2 separate regions of the Homo sapiens genome follow, and region 1 is linked to region 2. Evidence: fine-mapped expression QTL. A gene starts in region 2. The other region holds a variant in brackets. All regions are shown on one strand. Distances are between the middles of the regions.

Evidence for each region. PIP is the estimated chance that this variant, and not a neighbour inherited with it, causes the effect.
Region 1: its variant is fine-mapped to the expression of JARID2-AS1 in whole blood (INTERVAL, PIP 0.94).

What each region holds. Positions count from the first base shown.
Region 1 is chr6:15,163,856-15,169,235 of GRCh38, forward strand. All of the region lies in intron 1 of LOC105374946 (a long non-coding RNA gene), which reads right to left. Among named protein-coding and RNA genes, the nearest start is that of JARID2-DT, 79 kb to the right of the region's middle. The variant T/A (reference allele first, on the strand shown) is at 2,801.
Region 2 is chr6:15,246,548-15,251,927 of GRCh38, forward strand. JARID2-AS1 (JARID2 antisense RNA 1) reads right to left here and starts at 2,149. Exons shown (of 2, transcript NR_120502.1): 1 at 1,963-2,149; 2 at 1,268-1,597. It overlaps JARID2 (jumonji and AT-rich interaction domain containing 2), which reads left to right. Exons shown (of 18, transcript NM_004973.4): 1 at 1-37. RefSeq lists silencers at 1,715-1,774, 1,895-2,374 and enhancers at 2,563-3,404, 5,093-5,380.

The DNA.
Region 1 (5,380 bases), 83 kb before region 2:
TCTACTAAAAGTACAAAAAATTAGCCGGACGTGGTGGCGGGCACCTGTAATCCCAGCTACTTGGGAGGCTGAGGCAGGAGAATGGCGTGAACCCAGGAGGTGGAGCTTGCAGTGAGCCGAGATCGTGCCACTGCACTCCAGCCTGGGCAACTGAGCGAGACTCCGTTTCAAAAAAAGAAAAAAAAAAGAGAAAATTTACTGACCTAGGAAAGAGAGAAAGAGAGAATAGAGAGAGAAAAATAAAGGCTATCTGTGACTCCTCAAAGAAGTTATTTCTATAAATGTCCAATAGGAGATCATTTTCAGAGTCTTTTACAGCTTCAGCATAATTGAGTACAACTTGCATGACTCAAATACACACTTCTATCCTGAAAATATCCTTTTCTATAATAATTTCATATTTTTGTTTCGTTTTGTTTTTAAGACAGGGTTTCTTTCACTCCTGCCACCCAGGCTGGAGTGCAGTGGCGCCATCTTGGCTTACGGCAACTTCTGCCTCCCTGGCTCAAGTGATTCTCCTGCCGTAGCCTCCCAAGTAGCTAGGACCACAGGCACGCGTGCCACCATGCCCAGCTAATTTTTGTATTTTTTGTAAAGACAGGGTTTCACCATGTTGCCCAGGCTGGTCTTGCACTCCTGAACTCAAGCGATCCGCCCACCTTGGCCTCCCAAAATGATGGGATTGCATACGTGAGCCACCAAGCCCAGCCTCGGCATTTTAAATTATGTTGAATACTTTCTCCTGAGATCCCAAATTTGGTACAATAGACATTAATATTTAAAACTGACAGTTGTAGCCGGGTGCGGTGGCTCAGGCCTGTAACCCCAGCACATTGGGAGGCCGAGGCGGGGGGATCACCTGAGGTCAGGAGTTTGAGACCAGCCTGACCAACATGAAGAAACCCCTGTCTCTACTAAAAATACAAAATTAGCTGGGCGTGGTGGTACATGCCTATAATCCCAGCTACTCAGGAGGCTGAGGCAGGAGAATAGCTTGAACCTGGAAGGCGGAGGTTGCGGTGAGCTGAGATGGCGCCATTGCACTCCAGCCTGGGTAACAAGAGCAAAACTCCGTCTCAAAAAAAAAAATAAAATAAAATAAAAAATAAAAATAAATAAATAAATAAATAAATAAATAAATAAAACTGACATTTGTAATTGATTTCAATATGTATTACATCATACTAAATATATCTGCTGTTCTCTTATTGTATATTGATATCAGAAAAGATTACCTGATCTCTTGCTTGAAAAAAAGAAAACATGTAGAATAAACATGCATTTTTTTTTTGAGACAGTTTCACTCTTCCGCCCAAGCTGGAGTACAACAGCACAATCTTGGCTCACTGCAACCTCTGCTTCCCTAGCTCAGGGGATCTTCCAGCCTCAGCCCCCGAAGTAGCTAGGACCATAGGCGCTTGCCCACGCCTGGCTAATTTTTGTAATTTTGGTAGAGACGGAGTTTCACCATGTTGGCCAGGCTGGTCTTGAACTCCTGAGCTCAGGTGATCCACCTACCTGGGCCTCCCAAAGTGCTGGAATTACAGGCATGAGCCACTGTGCCTAGTCAGGAGTTTCTCAGAGTTTGTATGAGATTCATCCAAAGAGCCACTCTTTCTTTTTTATTTTTATTTTTTGTTTTAATTAATTAATTTTTTTTTTTTTGAGACAGAGTCTTACTCTGTTCCCCAGGCTGGAGTGCAGTGGCATGATCTCTGCTCACCGCAACCTCTGCTTCCTGGGTTCAAGTGATTCTCCTGCCTCAGCCTCCTGAGTAGCTGGGATTACAGGCATGTGCCACCATGCCCGGCTAATTTTTGTATTTTTAGTAGAGACAGGGTTTCACCATGTTGGCCAGGCTGGTCTGGAACTCCTAACCTCAAGTGATCCACCCACGTCGGCCTCCCAAAGTGCTGAGATTACAGGTATGAACCAATTTTAATTTAAATATTTTATTTCTTTATGTGTTCAGAGTCAATAAGAATTCTCTTTCTCCTATTCTTTCCCACTTTTTATGGTCCCAATTCCAATCATCCTAGACTACCACCAAAATGTTCACTGGCTCCAGTTTAAGGTGATATTGACCTAGAAGTGTATGCATTATCAATTGTTAGACTTTCGAGGCCTAACAATTTTCCAGGGTCCAAAGGCCATCATTTGTAATGGTAGAATTTCAGCTATGTTGACGGATGGAGCCATTTTTGAAAACCAAGTCAATTCTCTTTAACTCAGGTTACAGAAGGAACTTCTTGTATGTAAGGCAAGTGCTGAATACAGATTTTGATTACTTTTCAGTTTATGTTAAAATTTCAAAGCCTAACAAAGATGAAAAGTCATCTACCAAAGAATGATGAACATTGACTCTCCGAGCCCTTGAATTCTAAACCACAGACTGATTGGAAACCCTTAGACCTCAGCGGCCCCACCCCCTATCGCACCCCCAGTGCTTCCGTTAATTAGTAGGGGTAAAGAGGGAGCCAGAAGGGAAGGGAGAACTGGGGCCTTACAATAGGATCTGTCAGGAGTCTAAGCTCCTCCTCGGAAGAAACCCTCTAGCCACAAGGATTACTGATGCCTGTAATTCTACAATTAAAGAATCATTGTTCTCTTAATAAAATGAAAATACCCTGGTGATAGTTTAAGTCTTACTCCATAACCTAATAGTATATCTCAACACCTACAACAGCAATACTTAGGATGTTTGGCAAAACTCACGATTCCTGGATGTCAACACAGAAATCACTGAATTTCGTCTTTTTTTTTTTTTTTAATTTTTTTTATTTTTATTTTTATTTTTTTG[T/A]GTGTGTGTGAGACGGAGTTTCACTCTGTCACCCAGACTGGAGTGCAGTGGCACGATCTTGGCTCACTGCAACTTCCGCCTCCTGGATTCAGGCAATTCTCTAGCCTCAGCCTCCCGAATAGCTTGGATTACAGGAGTGCACCACCATGCCCAGCTAATTTTTGTATTTTAGTAGAGGCAGGGTTTCACCATGTTGGCCAGGCTGATCTTAAACTCCTGACCTCAAGTGATCCGCCCAAACCGACCTCCCAAAATGATGGGATTACAGGCATAAGCCACCACACCCGGCCCAGAAATCACTGAATTTCTAACTCAAATTCTCATTTGATCCTTATGCACAGTGAAGTAGAACGACTTCTGGCTTAGAGCTAGAGAGAAATAAAGAGGAAGCAAGAGTAGAAGATGAAGCCCGGGCAACATAGCAAGACCTCATCTCTACAAAAAAAGAAAATGCATAAAAATTAGCGAGACATGGTGGTGTGCGCCTGTGGTCCCAGCTATTTGGGAAGCTGAGCTGAGAGGATCACAGAAGCCTGGAAAGTCAAGGCTGCAGTGAGCCCTGATCATGCCACTGCACTCCAGCCTGGGCAACAGAGCAAGACTCTGCTTCTAAGAAAAAGAATTGAAGATGTGGGATTGGGGTGAGGGGGATGTGGAATCAAAGATAAACACTCATGAATTATGGTGTATTTGACAATTTAAGCCACTCCTGAAAGGCACCGAGAAGGACCAAAAGGGAAATCAATGAGAAAAAGGAAAGGAAGGGTGCACAAATTTTATGCACCTGGCATGGACTTCTAAAATGTTGTTCTGCATTAAATAGGTCTCTACCACCTCATCAAGGAAAAAGTTTTGGTGTTGCTCTTCTTTCCTTTCCTTATTTCCTTTTTTTTTTTTTTGAGATGGAGTCTCACTCTGTCACCCAGGCTGGCGTGCAATGGCGCAATCTCAGCTCACTGCAACCTCCGCTGCCTCCCGGGCTCAAGCAATTCTCCCACCTCAGCCTCCCAAGTAGCTGGGATTACTAGCACACACCACCATGCCAGCTAATTTTTGTATTTTTGTAGAGACAGGGTTTCGCCAGGTTGGCCAGTCTGGTCTTGAACTCCTGACCTGATGTGATCTGCCCGCCTCAGCCTCCCAAAGTGCTGGGATTACAGGCATGAGCCACCGTGCCTGGCCACCCTTATTTCCTTTTTATTTAAAAAGGTTCCTTTCCATATTTAACATATAGAATTTTGCTTAGGAAATATGGGATTTGTGGAAAGTTAGGAAGGCATTTTTTACAAATAAATGCTGTGTATTAATGAATCCTACATCTTTTCCCACATTTATTTCTTCAAAGATGTCTACAAAGATAGTATTTTTGCAGGTTCTTTTTTTCTACGTAACACCTAACTTTAAAAAGGCAAAATATTATTCACACAAATATCTTTTACTCACTCTACCCAATATTAGAAGCATTATAGGCTCCAAAGACTATCATGATTAACCTTCCTCGAATAAAACTTTAGGGATCTGCTTTGAACCCACAAAAGAAATTAAATGCACAGTTAAGACTGATTTTCATCATCAAGTTGCAACAGGGAATTGTCTTTAAAGCCGTCTCCTGCTGCCTTCATTAGAGTCTTGATCTCTTGCTGCAAATTTATATTCCTTTGTGGGTTTAAGGCAGATATTGGGTATCCTTTTAATTTATTAGGCAAGCTATTGATGAGTCTCATTCTGCCACAAATTCATGAACAATATTCCCGTGGCCACTCTAGTGGGAGTCTTAAGTGAATACAACATCTTCAAGATAAGTGACCATTTTTCACAGGGTAAATGGTATATTAAAAAACCAACATGTGGCCAGGTGCGGTGGCTCACGCCTGTAATACCAGCACTTTGGGAGGCCGAGGCAGGCGGATCACAAAGTCAGGAGTTCAAGACCAGCCCGACCAACATGGTGAAACCCCATCTCTATTAAAAAATATATATATACAAAAATTAGCTGGGTGTAGTGGTTCATGCCTGTAATCCCAGCTACTTGGGAGGCTGAGGCAGGAGACTCACTTGAACCTGGGAGGCAGAGGCTGCAGTGAGCCGAGATCACGCCATTGCACTCCAGTCTGGGCAATAGAGTGAGACTCTGTCTCAAAAAAAAAAAACCCAAAATGTGCAAGTTAAAAACGTGTATCAGCCTCTGCTTTAAGATCCACTTTGAGGCTGGGCACAGTGGCTCACGCCTGTAATCCCAGCACTTTGGGAGGCCAAGGCAGGCAAATCCCTTGAGCTCAGGAGTTTGAGACCAGCCTGGGCAACATGGGGAAACCTCATCTCTATTAAAAATACAAAAATTAGCCAGGCGTAATGGCAGATGCCTGTAATTCCAGCTACTTGGGAGGCTGAGGCAGGAGAAATGCTTGAGCCCGGGAGGCGGAGGTTGCTGTGAGCCGAGATTGCACCACTGCACTCCAGCCTGGGCAACAATAATGAAACTCCATCTCAAAGAGAAAGCAAAACAAAACAAAACAAAAAAACAAGAGTCACTGGGTCTTTTCTAGCTCGGCAGGACGAAGAATGACAACTAACTCTAAA
Region 2 (5,380 bases):
GGAAAGACCCAAGAGGAATATCATTCAGAAGAAATACGTAAGTGCTCCTAACAACACATCCTTTGACTTGCAGTTTTAAGCAATGGCTGTGAATGTCAAGTTTATAGATAATTCTGCCTCTGAAGGGTTTTAAACACAGCGTCCGATAAGGCTGTTTCTTTTTTTTCTGAAAGAGGGCTTTTCAAGCAAAGTGGTGTCTGCCTAGTTTGGTTGAAAAAACAGACTGGTGTAGAGATACCTCAAGTGAATAAATTGACCTCGAATGACACAACCATAATCTACTTTTAGATGAAAGGCAAGGGATTTTGGTGGAGCTTGAGGTGGGGGGTGGCTGCGGTAATGTAACTAAACTGCATTCTCAAGCGGATTTGGCCCCGTATTGCACTTTGCATGCAAATGAGCCTGTGTTATTATTATTAATGTTATTTGGAAAAATCGTGTAACGCATGTGTGTTGGAAGCCCTTTAAGTTGCGATCGAGGGTCCGATTATGGCGATCTTCTCTTTGCACTGGCACATCAAATTTAATGTCTGTGGTCGTTTTGGCTTATCTGGTTTGCAACATAAACCAGTTGGGAATCATGTTACAGCGAATGCATTTGTTGGGATTGACTTTAATAATGAGGCTGGTTTTGTTTAAAAAATTCATGGTTTCCAGTTGTAGGGGAAAAGGACACACACTATGGCTAATGTTTTTAAGTGTGTACGTGAATGCATATGTAAGTAACTACAAATAATTTCTCCCTGTTAACTGGGCTTCTGAAATTGGGTGATTATTCCTAGATTTAAATGGCTTGGAATAGTTAAATTTGTTTTGTGCATAGTACAGCTACGTTTTGATTGGCATGGGGAGTGTTTTTGTTTTGTGTGTGGTGGCTTTTTTTTTTTTTTAAGTTTGAGGGGAGGGAGGAAAGGGGGACCGAGGGATTAACCAAATATGCACTCGAGTGATCTGTGATTAGCTGCATGCTTTAAATTAAATAACTCTTTTTTTTTTTCAAAAAAGGCCAAATGAACATACCTTAGGAATAATGCAACGTAAGAGGAAAGTTTATTTAAGTTGGGTAGACAAATTGGTGTTAATATTTTCCCTTTTTGATCATTGTGGTGTGTGTAATGAGAGATGACCTTCGGGGCACTGGTTTTGTAAAAAAATATATTTAATGGAAAAGCTGAATGCCTCTTCAAGAGAGCTGATCCTTATCTAGACACGTCAACTTCAACTATGAAAGAAATGCAAGGTTAAATAATCAAGCCCAACTTAGAAAGCTGTTCCATAAAGAATTTAAGAATTAAAATACATCCGCATTGCAGAGGGCTGGGTAGAATGCAAAGGACTAGTTTAAACTCGGGCTGTAGAAACTGCACTGAGGCAACCTTGTCTTGGAGCGTGGACGCCTTCCCGGGGCACGTCCGTTTCGGATGCAGCCACAAAGCAAATGGGGTAGAACTTGGACGAGAACCGCACCCCGCCTCCCATTCCGGACCTCGTTGAGGTGGAGAGCAGCGTGGGGTGGGTTTTCTTTCTTATTGCGGGCGTTCAGCGGATCGTGTCTCCGAGTCCGGGCGTCCGGCTGCAAGCCCGTGGCTGGCGGCGGCTGCGGGAGGCACGGCACGAGTTAATGCACCGGGAGCAGAGCCGGTGTTCCCGACGTCCTCGAGCCGGCTGCGAAAGGGACGGCCCGCGGGGGTCGCGGCAGGCTGGGCCGGGGCTGGGCGGGCGGGCGCGCGCGCGCGGCCTATAGGGGGCATACTCCGGGCTCTAGGCGGGCGCGCGAGGCGGGCACCGGTCTACCCGGGCCGGCTTGCAGGCGGGCAGGAGGGCGGGTGGGGCGCGGGGGTGGCGCGGCCTGCGGGGCGCGGGGAGGGGAGAGCGCGCGGGGAGGGGGTGGGAGCGGGGGCGGGGGCGTGGGCGTGCCGGGGAGGGGGCGCGCGGCGCACAGCTGCAGCGGGCGCCCCCCACCGCGCACACGGCCGAGCATGGCGGCGGCGGCCCGGCCGGCTTCCCGCGGCCCTGCCTGCGGGCTCCGACGCAGTCTCGAGAGCAACAGGTTAAGCCGGCGAGACGTCAGCGCGCCCCCTCTCCGCCCCCCGGTTCTTCCCCCGCCGCGCGCCGGCGCCCCAGCCCTTCTTCCCTCCCTCCGCCCCCCGCGGCGCTCGGTTCCCCGACGCTCCCGGCCGCACTCTGTTGTCATTGTGACGTCACAAAGGGACGGGCTCGGGTGGAACCTTCCCCTCCTCCTCCGTGACGTCAAAAGTCGGGCGGGAGGCTCCAGGCGCGGCGGGGCGGCGGGGGGAGGAGGGAGCTGGGCGGGGGCGGGGGCTGCCGCAGAGCCGGGCTGCGGCGTGGGAGGAGGAAGAGGAGGAAGATGCGCTCGGCCTCTGCCTTCCGCTCCGGAGCGTCGCGCTTCCCACCAGGTGAGGGCCGGGGAGCCGTAGGTCCCCAAAGGAGTGCCACTGGACCCTGTTCTGATGCCACTTGGGAAGCGGGGAGCGGGGAGGAGGCGCCTCCTTTCTGCAGGAATGTTTTCACTTCCTCTGTTCCAGGTCTCCTGATGGTGTTGCATTACTAGCGTGGTGCATGTGTCCCCTCTCCAGTGCTTATGTAAAGAAATGAAAGTATTCAGGGAAAGCTGTGCTTTGTTGGAGGACCGCGTTGTGGATTTGGCCACCTTGTCACTTGAAGTCGTGTTAGGGGTGCTTCAGCAGGATGTGGCCGGATGCCTTTCATGATGATGCTGCACAGCAGCAACTGTTGCTCTTTCTGGAAGCTTTGTGGTACTACGGTGGGGGGGCTTTCCTTTGCTGTGCCGGCTCTGTACCTACTGACTGTTATTTTGGGGGGCTGGACCAAAGGAAGACTTGTCATTGATAAATGTACTGAGAAGAGCACAGGACTCCTTTAAGTCTCAAGGTGCTCTGGGCTTAGTTCTTCTGAGCAGGGAAACCAGAGGCTGGCGTTCTGTTTTCTCTTTTGTAAAATGGAAAAATACCTGCCATTGCCACTTAACTAAGTCACTGAAAAGATCATGTGCATGGAAGATGTAAAACAGTATGCCTCTTTATAAGTAAGGTGGCATTATTACTTGAGCTGGTGGAAGGCAGCACGTTTCCCACAATTGGTCTCAAAAGCCCGGGATGCCTGCTGAGTTGCCATTTAGTTTATTACCTTAGCAAAGCAGAGTTGGGGGTGCGATTGTCGATAGTAGGCTTTGGGAGAAATGATTGTTATATTTCGTAATAAATGATGTCCTTGAGAAACTCATAAGTTGCAGTGTAATCCTGTCTTAATTGTGTTGAGCACGACTCCCACTGCAATACCTTAAATAACTGAAAACATTTGCCTTTGAAAGCCCCAATCGACTTGGACAATAAAAACAGTTGCATGTTTTGCTCTAGAGATATTTTCTGCCGTTTCCATCATTCCACTGCCTGGTTATTCCTAGGGAGAATAACAGATAGGATACTGGGGCTTCACCACTATTTGATCAGGTATCAGTTTGAAATAGAGAATCTCTGCCTTATGAAGATAGTAATTCCTGTAGTTAGCATGAAAACAAATTGCCAGTTTGATTTTCTAGGACAGCTCAAGCAGAATTTGTACCACTAGGCTGTAAGTTTTAAGTATCTAATTTTCTGATTTGAAAGTGTATGATTTAAAAATTGGAAAAAGTTTTTGTTATAAGCTTCAAAAGGATTTACTATAATTACAACTACGTAAAATTACAAAGAAAAAAGTAGGAAGAACACAAAATATACAGTGGTTGGATTTATGAGGTTTTTTGTTTTAAAACTTATTCATCACAAATTGTTCAGTCACGTTATTTTACAGTTGGTGGGGTGGTGGGGAAATTTGCACGTTATTTTATTGCTGTATTTTTTCTTTCCTGGGATGTTTACGTGGCTTTTCAGTTACTTGTTTCTAGTAGTGGAAAATCTTGCTCTGTGTTACTTAGGTGCAGGGCAGTGGCAGTTTAGCTCCTATCACTGTACAGGGACAGTATGGAAGGAAGACACAATGAAGTCCAAAGTGTCACTAAAATTTGAAAGAAAAATTATGTCGACAAGTAATCCAACTTGGTTTATTATCCAGGTTATATTATTTTACAGTAGGCTAATACCTAACTTGTGTGTCCCTGTAGCCACTGGCCCAAATAGACAACTAGAATTATTTGGTACTCGGTAATGCCTGTTTCCTCATAGTGGGTTAAACCAGTCCCTGTTGCTGGGCTGAAGGCTATTGACGCACTTCCAAGTGCCTTGGAAATAACTCCAGTGTTAATATATACCGTACTCCAAATGTTAAACTTTCCTCCTTCAGAACAAGACAATCTTTTGGAGTATATAATTGGTGTCTGTTACCTTCAAAATGGAACTTTTTTTTTTTTTTCAGAGAAGACACGAGAATGTCATATTAAAAGCGTAGTTCGTTAAAACACTTGGTGAAGGCTAACCTAGAGAGCATTTGTTTTTTTGTTTCCTTTTTTTTTTGAGACAGGGTCTTGCTCAGCCACCCAGGCTGGAACGCAGTGGTTCCTCACTGCAACCACTGTCTTCCGGGTTCAATCGATTCTCCTGTCTCAGCCTCCCGAGTAGGTGGGATTACAGGCACCCCCTATCATGTCCGGCTAATTTTTGTATTTTAGTAGAGATGGAGTTTCATTTCACCATATTGGCCTAGCTGGTCTTGAACTCCTGACCTCAGGTGATCTGCCCGCCTTGGCCTCCCAAAGTGCTGGGATTACAGGCGTGAGCCACTGCACCCAGCCAGCTGAACATTTTTAAGCTAGTGGTTTGCCCTTGCTCATGATGGTGTGAGGACTCACACTCCTGACATTGTCTGAATTCTGGCTGCATTGCTCTGATCATCCTGATGTTACTGGTCCACGTCTCCCCCAGGATTACAGTAGTAGCAGCTCTACTAACCACCTTTTGTCTACCCATCCTGCTTGCCCTGTTGGCTGCAGTATGTCCTGACTGATATCCCAGGATACAGGTCCTGGCCACCTCTGGGATGTACCTCTGTCCCCTTTGGCTTTCACCCAGAAGTCTTGCCAAGTGTCAGTTGTTTGTTCCCAAATCTGGTTATTCCAGTTGGGCTTATTATTGTAATTACAGTTAAGTATTATGTCAACCTTGAAACAGTGTGAAAAAGAGCGTGGTGGCTCATGCCTGTAATCCCAGCACTTTGGGAGGCTGAGGTGGGCGGATCATGAGGGTCAGGAGTTCAAGCCCAGCCTGACCAACATGGTGAAACCCCGTCTCTACTAAAAATACAAAAATTACCCGGGCATGGTGGCGCATGCCTGTAATCCCAGCTACTCGGGAGGCTGAGGCAGCAGAATTACTTGAACCCAGGAGGCGGAGGTTGCGGTGAGCCG